Linked DNA regions of Homo sapiens. The protein of the gene in region 2 interacts with the protein of the main gene of each other region in a biochemical or structural test. Each region holds a gene or a part of one and is shown on either strand. Other genes may lie near its edges.

Region 1 (7,326 bases), about 130 Mb from region 2:
CTCTCTCTCCCCCTGCCCTGCAACAGGCCCCAGTGTGTGTCGTTCCCCTCCCTGTGTTTGTGCTGGATTTCTATAAATATCCAACAGTCTATGTGGATGAAGTTTAGGAAGAAGGGAAGAAAGACTGTTTCATGATTATTTTTTGCTGCACCACCATTTGTTGCCATATTAGAGGTGACATCCCAGCTGGGATTATCCCTGGCTTGGAAAGACTGAGTTAGGCATTGGTCACAGGCAGCATGTGAATTTGGTGGCATTTCACCTGCACTTAGAAGCAAAGTCATCCACTGCTCTGACCAACTCACAAGGCGCAGGCTGCAGCAACGTGATTAACAAGGTTATGTATTGAATTTATATAGCTAAATGATTTTCCTGGTTTCTTATCTGTTTAGAGAGGCTGATTAGCAGAGGTAGAAAAACAAGACAACCACTGAGCTTTCCAAATTTATCAGAGAAACCCCAGACCAGCTTCTGATGGGGAAATATTCCTTGACTTCCAGAGCTTCCCACTGGATTTTCATTCCTGCCCAAAGACATTCTTGGTTTATTCCTAGTGACCAATAGAGAGCATTCCAACAATCACTTCTTATCAGTCAGCAACTATATAATAAACACCTGGGACATGCTTGGCCCTGGGCTTTGGTAAAAAGAAAGGAGACAAATGGGCCTTAAAGGTAGAACAATTTCAATTAGAAGCCTGTACAAGGTTTAGAACACAACGTTTGAGAAAGGAAAAAATCCTTAAACATTAGCGAACCAAGGTCCTTCATTTTACAAAAAAGAAACTGCGTAAGGGATCTGTCCAGGTTCACACAGTTGGGCTAAAATCTGGGTCTCTCCCTTGCTCATCCTCTGAGCTTTCCACTGCGCTATGCTGTCTGACCTGTGGGGTGCCAGCTTCTGCAGCAGCTTGCTCTTAAAAAACAGTCACAACAAGAACAGAGGGCAACCCCGATTGCCTTCTGGGCCAGGTGCTGTGCTAGGAGCTTTTCAGGGATCACCTCAAAACAGGTCAATGGAGACGTTACTGTTATCCCCATTTGACAGATAAAGAAACTGAGTCATGGAACCATTTAGGAACTCACCCAAGGCCCACAGCTGGTGCGTGGCAGAGACCACCTTCAAGCTCAGGATCTTGATTCTGGAGTCACAGTCTTAACCGCAACCCCTGGAACCACAGCCCAAACCCGCCAGCGAGCCACGGTTCACTCTCTTCACTTTCTTGTTTTTAGAAATGTTCCTGTAGAGCAGCCTCTAGTAACACCTCAGACAAATGAAATATCATTTCTACATCCCTGATCTCTCTCTCTTGTTAACGTATTGTGTAAATGGTGGAAAATGTGGTTTTTAAAGCACATTGAGGCTGGTAAAAGCTTCAAAGCCACCGCCTGCACTTACTCTTTAGACCACTAGATGTCAGTGTGATTGCTCTATGAAGCAGCCGTAACTTGGCAAGGTGCAGCATTGCACCAGAAATCAGCTGCTGCGAGCTTCCAAGCCTCTGGACTCCAGCAGAAGCTGGGGGGAATTTGAAGCCCAATGGTAGTAAACAAATAATGGACATGACAGTCAGGCAGTGTGGATTTCAACCTTTACAATAATTTCTCAAGGGAAATGGAAACCTTTTTAGCCTTTCCTTTTTGAAACGGATGGTCAACTTTTCCACGGGGTGCCTTAAGTGCACCATAACGCCTTTGATATTCAGGATCGCCTTTAATGGTACATCATAAAACATGTGGTTTTATTGGAAAGAGCACCCTTATCCTCCTCCCCCTCACCTATCACTTATGATTAATTTCTTAAGGTATCGGACTATTTGAAGTGTGTGTATCTCACATTGCATGGGGACGTTTTACTCTACCTAAAACCTCCGGTGGCATTCCCATAGCATGGGCAGAAAATCACAGCCACAACTTCACCCTTCCGGTGATAAGCCCATCTGTTTCCCACGCAGAATTATTTGTATTTAATGAAAAAATATTTAAAATGGTGAATATTAATTATTATTTTACATTAGTACTCAAAAAGTGTATATAGTTTTATCCCCTCAACAACTCCATGAGATGAGTTCTATTATTATCCCCATGTTTAGATGAGAAAACTGAGACACAGAGAGGTTAAGTGGCTCTCCCAAAGTCACACAGCTAATAGAAGGCAGAGTCAGAGGCCCATTTCTATTAATTACTTCCCTGCAAATCAAGTTAAATGGGGGGAAAAGACCTTGTGAATTTTTCAGAAGAATCAGCAATGTATACAAGACAGCCAAAGGCTCCGAGGAAAATTTGGAGTTGCTGGTTGCTTTGAAAGGCCTCCTTGGCTGATCTGCAGCTGTTTGTCATCATTTATCCAGTTTGCCAGGATTCCTTCTGAGAAGGCATAATTCATGGCAGTATAGTCCCTTTCTTTAGTCTATGTAGAAATCTCATGTGAATCCTCACCTCCTGCCAGGTTTGGAGGAAATTGAAAGTTACTCTTTCTCATCAAAAGGATGGACACATATTTGTTAGGAACCAGGATGAAATAAACCATCTGTGCCCAGCTCTGTTGGCAATAAAACCTTGTTTCTGGTTTCACTGCAAGACGTTATTTAACGCTAGTGGCACCAGAGGTTCCAACAAGAACACATGAGAGGCCTTATCCAGTTACGAAAGAGCAAGTGACAGACACGTTCCCGGCCACATTTTTATCTGCTTATCATCCTTTTGGCTACCATGAGGCTGAGTTTTAGTGTCTCCTGTTCATCTCTTTTGCTATTTTCCAACAGAACATGCGTTTCCTTCAGTTATTCAGCTAGCACAGTCTGTGCTGCCAGAATTTGGAAGTGGTGCTTTTTTCCTGCTATAAAAAATTACACATTTATTTGAAAGAAGAAACCTAGGCATAGCTGTTACCTGACTCCTGCAGAAGAAGGCGGAAGGATGGCCTCCTTTAGTGGATCTTCCTGGGCCAGGGTCTGGGCCCTACTCACTTCTAGCTGTCGCATCTGCTCTGCATGTGGAACTCAAGAACTGCGGAGCTTTCTGATGCCTGGCAGGGTTTTGTCCCGGTCAGTGGTTGAGTGAGCCACACCTCCCTCCCCTGACCAGGCAAACTTAGACAAGAAAAGTTCTATTATGCCCTCAGGATATTGAGTAATAAGGAGGAGAAAGGGGAACTTAAAAGTGTCTGTTCAGCCTGGATACTTCTGCTAACATTCCCACCAAGCATGTGATATTTAAAAGGGTAAAACCAAAACAAGATTCTCCTGCCTGCCACCATGTTTATTCAAGAGGAAGAAGCTGTAAGTTCTTTGGACCCATAATCTTTCCACACACCCAGGAGTGTCACCTGCAATGGGGGCCAAAGGGGGATGCTTACAATTAGAAAGGTCCACTGGAGCATGTGGAATATTTGGAAGCTAATTGCACCTGAGGTCAGGAGGTAAAGTGGTGTGCTTGACCATATCAACTGAAGAGTGGTCACTCATGTGTGGAAAGCCCACTAGACTCACTCTGTCGGCTCTCTGTTAGACTATTCTTGAGGCTGGAAGAAATGGAGTATTTAGATGATAATCCATGTGAAAAGACCACCAGTGGGGCTGAGTGTAGTGGGTCATGCCTGTAATCCCGGTACTTTGGAAGGCTGAGGCAGGAGGATTGCTTGAGACCAGGAGTTCAAGACCAGTCTTGACAACATGGTGAGACCCTGTCTCTACAAAAATAAAAAAAAAATTAGCCAAGTGTGATGGTGCATGCCTGTAGCCCCAGACATTTGGGAAGCTGAGGTGGGAGGATTTCTTGAGCACAGGAGTTCAAGGCTTCAGTGAGCTATGATTGCACCACCATTGCACTCCAGCCTGGGTAACAGAGCAAGATCCTGTCTGAAGGAAAAAAAAAAAAGAAGAAAGAAAGAAAGAAAAATAAAGAGAAGGAAAGAAAGAAAGAAACTCAAAAAAGAAAAGAGAAAAAAAGAAAAGAAAAGACAAGAAAAGAAAAGAAACCCCCCAAAACAGAGGCTACCATTGGGACTAAATGAGATTTTAACAAATTGTGATTGTGAAATTAACCTCCCCCACCTTCCTTCTACTCATTCATTCATAAACATCAAACACTTACTGTGTGGGTCAAGCACTGGCCAAGACTAGAAAGATGGAGAAGACAAGGATTTTCCACTCAGTGGCTTATAATCTTACAGACGTTATGCCAGAGATGGTCACTTTCCTCCCCGTATGATTTTCCCTTCTTATAGAGTAGTAGGGTCAGCAAACTATGGCCCGCATGCCAAATCTGGCCTGTGGAATGTTTTGTACAGACCTCAGGCTAAGAATTTACATTTTTTAAGAATTGTAAGAAAAGGGAGAAGAAGCAAAAGAAGACAATGATGGTAACAATGATGATGACAACAATGATGATGACATGGCTGAGACCGTATATGGCCTGAAATATTTACTATCTAGTCCTCTGCAGAAAAAGTTTGCCAAAAGTTTAGGATGCTTATTCTATCCTAAGAGATCTCTGGCTTTTTACCTGGCCCACAGCTACACAGGATAAGGCATTTTCTAGTCCCTCTTGACATTAGATTTGGCCATGTGGTTAAGTTTTAGTCAATGGGATCTATGCAGAAGGGATCTATGTAGCTTCTTGGTGTGTCCTAAAAGAGGGCCCCATCATGCTTTCCCCTCCCAGCTGGCTGGGATGCTGTGGGGGCCTGAGCTCTTCTGATCCAGTGATGACTAAGGTAATACTCTAGGCATGACAGAGCCAGGAGATAGAAGGACCTGGCCCCCAACACAGGAGACAACCCCATCTTCACTGGATTTTGCTAGATGGTTATAAAGAAGGGAACAGGAGGACAGACATTTAACTTTTAAAAATCAGTGTTATGTTGTGTCTCTTTTGCTGCAACCAAACATGTATTATAACCACTATAGAGATAGACACTGTATAACTAACCATGACACACTGTGATGAGTATTAAGCTCAAAGTATGAATAAAGGCATCTGGAAATACCCAGGAATATGTAATTCCTTCTGCATGGGGGCAGAAGAGTTGAGGAAGACTTTACCTAACATGGGACAGTTGATCTTGGGCCATGAAGGAAGCCTAACTGGAATTTGGGATTACTTGTTTTTCTTCTCCTCTCTGCCAACCTCTCTCAGATGGCCAAAACAAAATAAAATAATCCACTGGGTGAGGTGGCTCACGCCTATAATCCCAGCACTTTGGGAGGCCTAGGAGGGTAGGTCACCTGAGGTCAGGAGTTCGAGACTAGCTTGGCCAGCATGGTGAAACCCTGTTTCTACTAAAAAATCCAAAAATTAGCTGGGCGTGGTGGTGGTGCATACCTGTAATTCCAGCTACTCAGGAGGCTGAGGCAGGAGAATTGCTGGAACAAAGGAGGCGGAGGTTGCAGTGAGCTGAGATTGCACCATTGCACTCCAGCCCGGGCCAACAAGAGCAAGACTCTGTCTCAAAAATAAAATAAAATAAAATAAAGTAAAATAAAATAAAATAAAATAAAATGAAATAATCCTCCAAAAGCAAGCAACACGCCCTGTCTTCATGGAATGTACTGCCCCCTCTCCTTTTTCACCTGGCTAACTCCTGCTTATGCTCCAAAACCCAGTGTAGATATGATCTCCTTTTGAACTTTGTCCCACAAGACTGGGTAAGGCCTTCTGAGCTCTGGCGTCTTGTACTCTCTCTTAGTTGTTGGAGATATGTCTGTGTTTCTCACTAGATCATGAGTTCCTTAAGGGTTGGCGGTAACTGTGGCTTATTTGTCCTGGATTTCCAGCTTGTAGTACATTGCCAGGCATACAGAAGGCACTTTATAAACATTAATTAATGTATTAGAGGCCAAGGGCAGCTTCCTGGTTTGTGGGACTCTTGCTCTTTTTTAATGCATTTGTCCCACTAAAGGGAAGGTGAGCCCAGCAATTTATATCTCTCAGCCTCTGTGTCCTAAAAGTATATACATTTTTAAAAGTTTGCTTTCCAAAAAGGCAGAAAAGAAATGTACACATTTAGAAAGTTTTAGTTTAAAAAACTGAAAGTTTCATTTGTTATGAATGGTCTCTATGCTTAGTAGTGTCTGAAAGGTTTGAAGATTTAATAAAAACAACTAAAATGCTATGAGGTGAGTTTAGTAACATGATGGTATGTTTCCGAAATAAGCGGAAGTATAGATACTTGCTCAAATTTATCTTATTTTGAGCTTTTCTTATTATTACATAATAATAAACACCCATTTTTCTATTTTTATAAAATCTTTGCTCACAAAGGAAAATTTGTGCAGTAATATTATTTGATTACAACAAGATGATGATGCTGATAATTACATTTGATTCTCCCCTTGTCACTCTGTGTTATGTGTCTTATAATCAATAAAAGAGGGAGAGGAACAACAAACACTGAGGCCTGTTGGGGGAGGGCAATGGAGGGGAGAGCATCAGGAAAAATAGCTAATGCATGCCAGGCTTAATACCCAGGTGATGGGTTGATAAGTACAGCAAACCACCATGGCACACGTTAACCTATGTAACACACCTGCACATCCTGCACATGTACCCTGGAACTTAAAATAAAATAAAATAAAATTTAAAAATAAAAAATAAAAAAATAAAAGCAAAAGCATTGCTTTTCATGCAAACCTATTTTACTACATGCTTTGGCTACAGGCAACCAATTTTCTGAACTGGAGAATTAATGTAAGACTTTTAAGACACCGTATAGTAGTAGTATTTTCCCCTATCATTTAGAGGAAAATATAAAAATATGAGGAGCATATTTTCCTTTATGTATAGTCCTCCTTGAGATGGTGTTGACAGAAGGTGAAGTTGAAAAGAATTACTTGCATTATGTTTCTAAAGGAAACCAGTAATGTAATATTAAGTTATTATTTGAATATGAAGTTTTCATTATTTTTGTGGCTATTCACTAAAGGCCTTCATAAATTACAGGGAAACCTGAGCAATTAAATTTAAAAAAATCATTCAAATGCTTCTTAAATAAAGTTTTTGGTCTTAACATCTGCTACAGAATCAAGCTAACACCTCAGTGCTTCTGGATATTTATTAAATGTTTAGGGCTTCCATTCCCCCATGCAAGAGTAATTCTAAGCAAATGATGAATGTCTCAATGAGTAGCTCATTCTTTGTGGACGTAAAAACTAGGTTTCCACTTCTCTATCTGGTGCAGCTCTGTTGTGCAATACAAGGAGATAAAACCCTAGGTAAGAGAATTAGAGTGGGGGTGGGTGTAGTAGAGATGGAGAAGGTCAGCTTATTCTCAACTCACTACTCCCAGTATCAAATATCCATTTCAGATATAAGAATTTCTGTCTTT
Region 2 (7,282 bases):
AAAGCGCAATATTCAGGTGGGAGTGACCCGATTTTCCAGGTGCGTCCGTCACCCCTTTCTTTGACTCGGAAAGGGAACTCCCTGACCCCTTGCACTTCCCAAGTGAGGCAATGCCTCGCCCTGCTTCGGCTCGCACACCGTGCGCGCACCCACTGACCTGCGCCCACTGTCTGGCACTCCCTAGTGAGATGAACCCGGTACCTCAGATGGAAATGCAGAAATCACCTGTCTTCTGCGTCGCTCACGCTGGGAGCTGTAGACCGGAGCTGTTCCTATTCAGCCATCTTGGCTCCTCGAGAGCATAAATCTTATTTTAAGTCAGAATGGGACACACTTAAGTTGTGGTTTGATCACTAATCACTTGGAAATTAGGAATTAGGAAGAAATAGCTACTTAAAGCAATAATAGTTTTTTATGACATATGTGCTACAATATAATATCTCCTGTTTTGTTTTGCACAGAGCTCTCCCAGTTATTGCTTTGTGACCTTATCCTACATTTTAATCATCCCATCAAGACTGAGAACTTAGCAGAAGCAGAAAGAAACAACCCCCTCTTTGAAGAGTCTAAAATATCAGATGTATCCCTTGTTTCTAACAGTTTTTCTATCTGATTTCTTATTTGTTATGAGTTTCTGTTTTATTGTTGAACTAACAAATATTTGGGAGAGTTGAGTTTACTAATTTGTATATATATAATTTAAAACAAAATAAAAATAATGTAAACAAGCAGTTCATGTTCTTGAAGGCTGTTTAATGTTTTGAAGAATGGCTTAACTTACGTCACTAATGGCAAGTGTATGACATAGGAAATTGGCCATGGGTCACTGCTTATCCTTTAGCTTATGCTTGAATTTGGCTCAGGTTGAAAGAGAGCTACTAAATTATTAATTGATGGAATGAGTTTTTATTAATCAGAACTCTCCTGGTAGTGAACGCCAAGCACAACTCAACCAGCTGAAGCATTTATTGAGTCATGTGACTTGGAAGCACATAGTTGGAATAGATTTCAGGGATCCCACTAATTTGTCCATACTTTTACTGTGTTTTTGTGTGTTGGCCTCGTTGTCTTCTATTGTAGACTGGTTCTTCCAGATAATTGGTAAATGGGAGTAGTTGCAGGGCAGCAGGCAGCTCCAAGTGTACAGCATTGCCTTTGGGGACCCCAGATAAAAGAGAGATCTTGTCTCAGGCTTCATGTTTAACATTCCAGAGAGTGACCCTGATTGACCCAGCTTTAGTAAGATGTTTATCACTGAGCAGGGTTCTGAGCAACTGTGACTGATGCACCTGGGGTCATATAGAAGGTCTGTGGCCAAAAGAGGCAAGGCCCAGCCAAAAGGAGTTGTCGGTGCTTGAACAGAGAGAGAATGCTAGTCATGAAAACATTAGCTTCCCAACATTGATTTCAGTCATAGCCATGGAACAGAACATCTTAATCCTGATGGCACTTTCCACTAATAGACTTAAAATGAGCTTTGGTTTGTTTTATAAACATGATTCGCTACCAAATAGTTGCTTTGAAATCTATCAGGTCCTTCATTTTAGATATTTTTGAATTGTAAAGATAGAATACGGCAAAGCAAGACAAGTGGAGCTTACTCGATACTAGAACCTATGGTGTATGCTATCCTTACTACCTTGTACCTAGCTCACTTGTTTAACACAGAAGAGCCACTAAGTAAATACTTGCTGAATAGCCCGTTGTGTAGACGTGTAAATGAATGCAGGGTTTTCAGCCTTAAACTCCCAAGTTTTGGACCCTAAACTGAGAACTTCTGGTTGTTAAGGATGAGATTTTGTGAAACACCATTTTTATCATCAGTTAAAAGTCTCTACCTTCTGCATACTCCTTATTTTAACATATCATCAGTTTTAAAATGGTGACTTCTTAGATTCCTTCCAATACCCCTTTTATTAGCTCATGAAAATGAAGCTGCAAGATACTCTTTTCCATTTCGAAAACTTGTAGATTAAGCAGAGACGCCAAAAATTGTTGCTAATAAAAGTTGTGCAATAACAACCAAGGTCCCAAAGGGAAAAACTTGAAGAACAACTGATTGTCACTATTTGGCTGAATACCAGTTTTTTAATCTGGCTGAATGCCTATATTTTTTGTTAAGTGATATTTGTAAACTGGAGGAAAGAGTTTAATTACCTCAAAGCACTTATACAGCCTGTTTGGGAAGGATGAGGAGAAGGGACTTTATGGCAGAGCTGTCAGGGGGATAACAAGAGACAGAAGAGCCATATCTAATAGGAAAGTCTGATCACATTTAATCTAAAGTGTTGCTCCCTCGTCTTCCCAGGAAGCCTTTGGTAAAATCTATATCCCTGGACAATGCTTTTGGGGTTGGGAGAAGGTTGGTGGGGGGCTGTGATGGTTGGTGTGGGTGTGGAGATGTGAAGAAATGCCAACTTAACCCCAGATGTGTTCATTAAACCTAGACCCACGATACACCAAAGTCTCATCCCTAAATTTAAAATGTTTTCTTTTGGTATTTGTAGTTTAAATTTTCTTTAAGACAAAAATATAACAGTATGGACTAAAAGTCAATAAAGTTGTTTTAGGAAACCAAAAAAGTAAAGCAAAAGACTATTTTAATCCCAGAAGTTATCTCAACATGCATTTGTCTTTTCATAAAAAAATTACGTAAAAATGCCCCCAGGAAAAAATACTAAATAAGAGTGAAATTATATTTTTGAAGCCTCTTAAATTATTGCTGCTGAGAAAACGAGGTTTAGTGATTTTCAAATTACATGTATAAAACTAATGAATGCCTCTGACTGACAGAGGTTTGGCTGTAAAAAACAAATCAGTTTTATGTGACACCAATAACTATTACTGTTTCAGTGTTTTAAAACTTGCCCCAAATTGTTTCTGTAGCTGTGTAAACTACTGTATTTTGAAATGGGCATTAAATAATCTTTTAAAAAATGAATTATTACAGTGCACTACTAGACTTCAAGTGTGAACATGACTCATGCACTTTACAAACATTGAAGAAGAATAAATAAATTATGGGATAGTTGACAGTCTTCATTTCAAACACTGTTTTTAAAGGAAAGGATAAAACCCTTGTGTTCATGGGGAGGGGTTCAGTTCAGTCCTAAGTGTTTGTCCATTGACCAAGGCTGATTGATCTCGTGTTGGCAACAGAGGCAGGAGGACGGTTCATTTGCTCGGCTATAACTTGCTATGGGTACCCTGCAGCATGCGTTAATGTGCACTGGTATCTGGAACCTCGGTTTTTCCCATCAATGAGCAGAAGTGGCATTTTCCTGAAGTAGTCAATAATATCTGACACAGACAGAAAGTCCTGAAAGAGTCAAGATAGGGAGATGAGTCAACATTGGAATGAAAAGCAGGAACTTCACTTTCAGTTTTTTTATCTGCATAATATATGCTGCCTCTTCAAGTGATGAGGATTGTGGGGGGAAAAAATGTAAATGTGGCAATTAGTTTAATGATTTCTGCTATAGAACTTTGAAAAAATTCCTCATAAACATCCAACAAACCATAGATAAAGATAAAATATGGGCCGGGTGCAGTAATTCACCCCTGTAATCCCAGCACTTTGGGAGGCTAAGGCCGGTGGATCACCTGAGGTCAGGAGTTTGAGACCAGCTTGACCAACATGGTGAAACCCTGTCTCTACTAGAAAATAGAAAAATATTAGCTGGGCGTGCTGGTGTGCGCCTGTAATCCCAGCTGCTTGGGAGGCTGAGGCAGGAGAATTGCTTGAACCTGGGAGGCAGAGGTTGCAGTGAGCCGAGATTGCGCCATTGCCGCACTCCAGCCTGGGTAACAAGAAGGAAACTCCATCTCAAAAAAAAATAGATAAAATATGTGCATGCGTGTGTATATATATATATATATATCTACATATCTATATATATATATATGTAATTTGAAATGCATATATTTTTAACTTCATATGAAGGGGTCATTTAAATAGTCACTATTACAATATTCTTGCCTCGGGTTGCTCTGTTTTTGGTTTTGGTTTTGGTTTCTGCATCTCTATTTCACCCCCAGTCATTAATAGTGTTAGGAAACATAAGGACTCAGGAGGTCAGACACGGTTCATGGTGTCTAGAGGTGGGATCTGCAGCATGGCACAGGAGTTCCTTCATGATCTCTCTGCTGTGTCCTCACTGCCACCTTCACACTCATAAAGGCTCAGCAACCAATATTTGCAGCCATAGCCTGGATCGCCCCAGCCTTGATTGCTTGCTAGAGAGGGAAAAGCCTAACTCATTTTTCTAGATGTGGGTCACAACTCACCTAGGAACCCTAACAGGATAATGCACTTCCTTTAAGACTAATCTGCTAGGTGCCTCCCTCCATGGGAGCTGCAATGAGTGGTTGGTCTGCACTTGTGTGTTTCCACACTGGACCAAGATAAATCTTGAAGGGCAAATACCTCTGCTCCTATAGGGTCTGTGCAGCTCTATCCACTGCCAACCAGCGATTCAAACATTTGATCACAAGCATGCATTTTTTTTCTATTCATTAACATTATCATAACAGAAGTATGTGAAGCAGAAGTTATGGGTAAGCTGTTTCTCATTCTGGACATGTTTGATTCAGCTGGTCCTCCTCTTGGAACTTTGAACTTAGAGTATGTTTGGGGCGTTACCTTCAGTTGTTAGTTTCCTTTGCGAAAAACTAGCCCTGAGGGTTTCTTTCCATCCGTTCTGATTAGCACTCAAAAAGTGACTGGCATGAGAATCTAAACCTTGGCCTAACAGAGAATTTCTTTGGCGATCTGGCCATCCTCACAGAGCCAAACCTCCATTTTGTTAAGAAATGAGCCAAGTATTTGAATAATCACCCCAGCAAATATTCTAATTTTTCCCCTTTTCCAGGTGGTGTCAACTTAAAATGCAGCCTACGTTAAAATTATGCCACAGAGGTGAATAATAGTGGGAACTTTCCTTTGACACCATCTAAATAGATTTTTTTAAGTTAACATAGTTTTTCTTGATTTTGAAAATTATACATGTGATTATTTGAAAGAAAAGATATACAAGAAAGAATCCTATGGCAGAAGTAACCATTGTAAAGATTTTGCTTTATTTCTCTTCCAATAAATGAAGGGCTTCACTCATGTGATTTAATCCTAAATTTGCCATACAGCACGGACTCTCAAAGATCGCTCCATGAAGGCATGCAGAGTGGCATAAATAAAGACTTTGGGAAAATGTCGAAATTTGAAATCCTTACCTCTTTCCCTCGGAGTCCAGTTCCCAACAAGTAAACTTGACTTTCCTTCTGATAACGGATCTGGATGTTGTAAACTTTATCTTTGTACAACACCATGAGGACATATGGATTGGTTGTTGTTTTTTTAGAGCTGTCTCTGACCAGAAATGTGCCATCCTAAAAAGACAAATTCCTGTTATTATGGGAGCAGTAAAAGTCAATATTTTTGTTGCTTGTAAGAGTAGTAGACAAGCCTCTAGGGATCTGACAAACATGTCAGTTGCACTTTGCAGCTTCTTGAGTGCAAAACCTGTCATTCAACGAACATTCAGTTCTCCAAACAGCTACATATCCCATGTGTCATGAGTTATTTTGTTATTAAGAAAGGCAACAGAGATTGTATCAAAGAAATTTCCAAGTCAATCTCGTTAAAGCCTCCTGATAAAAACGGAATCTTTTGTTCAGTAATAAATAATGGGTGGTTGAGTGGATAAAAGGCCAGGAGAAATAAAATACTTTATTGGTTAACTCAAGATATATCTTCCTAGTATTCCTGTGAGTTAATTCCCTAAACTTTCTTTTCCACATCCAAAGTCAGAAAACATCCACATGCCATGAAATTCACCCTTCTTAAAACCCTGTGATCTCTAGATAGTCTTTCCTTCATCAGACCCTTGAGCAAAATTGAATGCAGATGTTCTCTTTTCTTTTCTTTTTTCTGATATTTGCTAAACTACTGTTTTGATTGTCCTGTACTTTAAATTTCCATTCAATAAATTATTGCTACATAATATTAATACTGTAAAGATCTAATATTAAAATAGAATTAATTGGTAAGGACTCCTTTAAACTACTCCCTTCTCCTCATACCAAATCAGGATAGCTTTAAATAGCCATGAGTTGGCAATAATGACTTTCCTTTGTTCCTTTTATTGCAAGTTAATTGAGCCTGTCAGAACATCTCTGCTAAACAAACATACTTCTGGACCAGTGATTCACAGTCTTGGCTTCAAATTAGAATTACCTGGGAAGTTTGAAGACTCCCAGAGCTGACACAGCACCCCCAGAATAATTAGAATCTCAAGGTGAGACCCAGGAATCGGGATTTTTCAAAAGTTCTCCGGGTGATCTAAATGTGCAACTACTACTGAGAACTACTGGTGTGGAGTTTAAGTGTGAAAGATGAAAGATTTTTGCTTTCCCATTTCTGATAAATAAATCTAAGGTAAAGTTTCGGCACTGGCTACGGGAAATATGTTTAAGACTTTATGATATTAAAGGACTAGCTAGAAACGTCTAGGGCAAAAAGCAAAAAGTTGCTGCCATCTCTTTAATATTGGTCCTTTCACATCAACATGGATGGCACGTCTGTGTTAAGAGGAAGATAGAACTGGTACGATGTTGGAACTTTGAAAGAGAGTCTCCTTCTGACACCATGTGATTCCTATGACAAGACAGACTCTTTCATTAATAAAATCTCCTAAGATGCTGCCAACCAAATGACTGCCTTGAGATTCTTCTGCCAGCCTAATGATTCCCGAGCCTAGGAATCCCTGCTATGGGTGCTGGTAGTTGTGAAGCTGGCACTAATGGGTCTCCTAGGTATTACAGAAAGCAACAGCACCTAGCAGAATTCCTAGCCTGTAATTGGTACTCAGGACAGGTCAGTTCCCTTCTCTGCCATTAATATTTACAACTATGTTAAAATAAACTATAGCACAATACCTGGTTTATCTTTCTAAGAGCAGCTTCTGCCTCTGGTCGGGTAATATAAGAAACGTACCACTCTTCATTTAATGAATTCTGAAAATGTAAATTTTTAGAAACTGAATAAATTTTACAGTTACAGATGTAAGTGAAAAGAAAAGCCTCTGAGTAATCATTTCCATAAATCAACACCTCAATTCCAGGAGGTCTGAAACATTTGTTTTCTTAATTTGCATTCAGAGTCATTTAGCTGGGGCTAAATAGAAGATATTTTGTGCGAACTGCTTTTTATCATGACACTGGTTGCAAAAATGCCTGTGAATAAGAGTTCCTTACAGTATGGAACCTCTTCAGGAAAGATACAGAT

Evidence for each region.
Region 1: the proteins of LCP2 (region 2) and FYB1 form a complex in vitro, tested with the Homo sapiens proteins (one study listed by BioGRID and IntAct).

What each region holds. Positions count from the first base shown.
Region 1 is NC_000005.10:39,216,552-39,223,877, forward strand, and holds the start of FYB1 (FYN-binding protein 1), read right to left. Parts: upstream 3,013-7,326; 5' UTR 2,892-3,012; intron 1-2,891. UniProt on the Homo sapiens protein: Acts as an adapter protein of the FYN and LCP2 signaling cascades in T-cells. May play a role in linking T-cell signaling to remodeling of the actin cytoskeleton. Modulates the expression of IL2. Involved in platelet activation.
Region 2 is NC_000005.10:170,245,501-170,252,782, forward strand, and holds the end of LCP2 (lymphocyte cytosolic protein 2), read right to left. Parts: intron 7,071-7,282; exon of another isoform or gene 7,012-7,070; coding exon 6,934-7,011; exon of another isoform or gene 6,148-6,933; intron 5,386-6,147; coding exon 5,230-5,385; intron 3,320-5,229; coding exon 3,197-3,319; 3' UTR 733-3,196; downstream 1-732. Other genes in the region: putative uncharacterized protein C5orf58, read left to right, coding at 462-613. UniProt on the Homo sapiens protein: Adapter protein primarily involved in signaling pathways within T-cells, as well as other immune cells such as platelets, mast cells, and natural killer (NK) cells.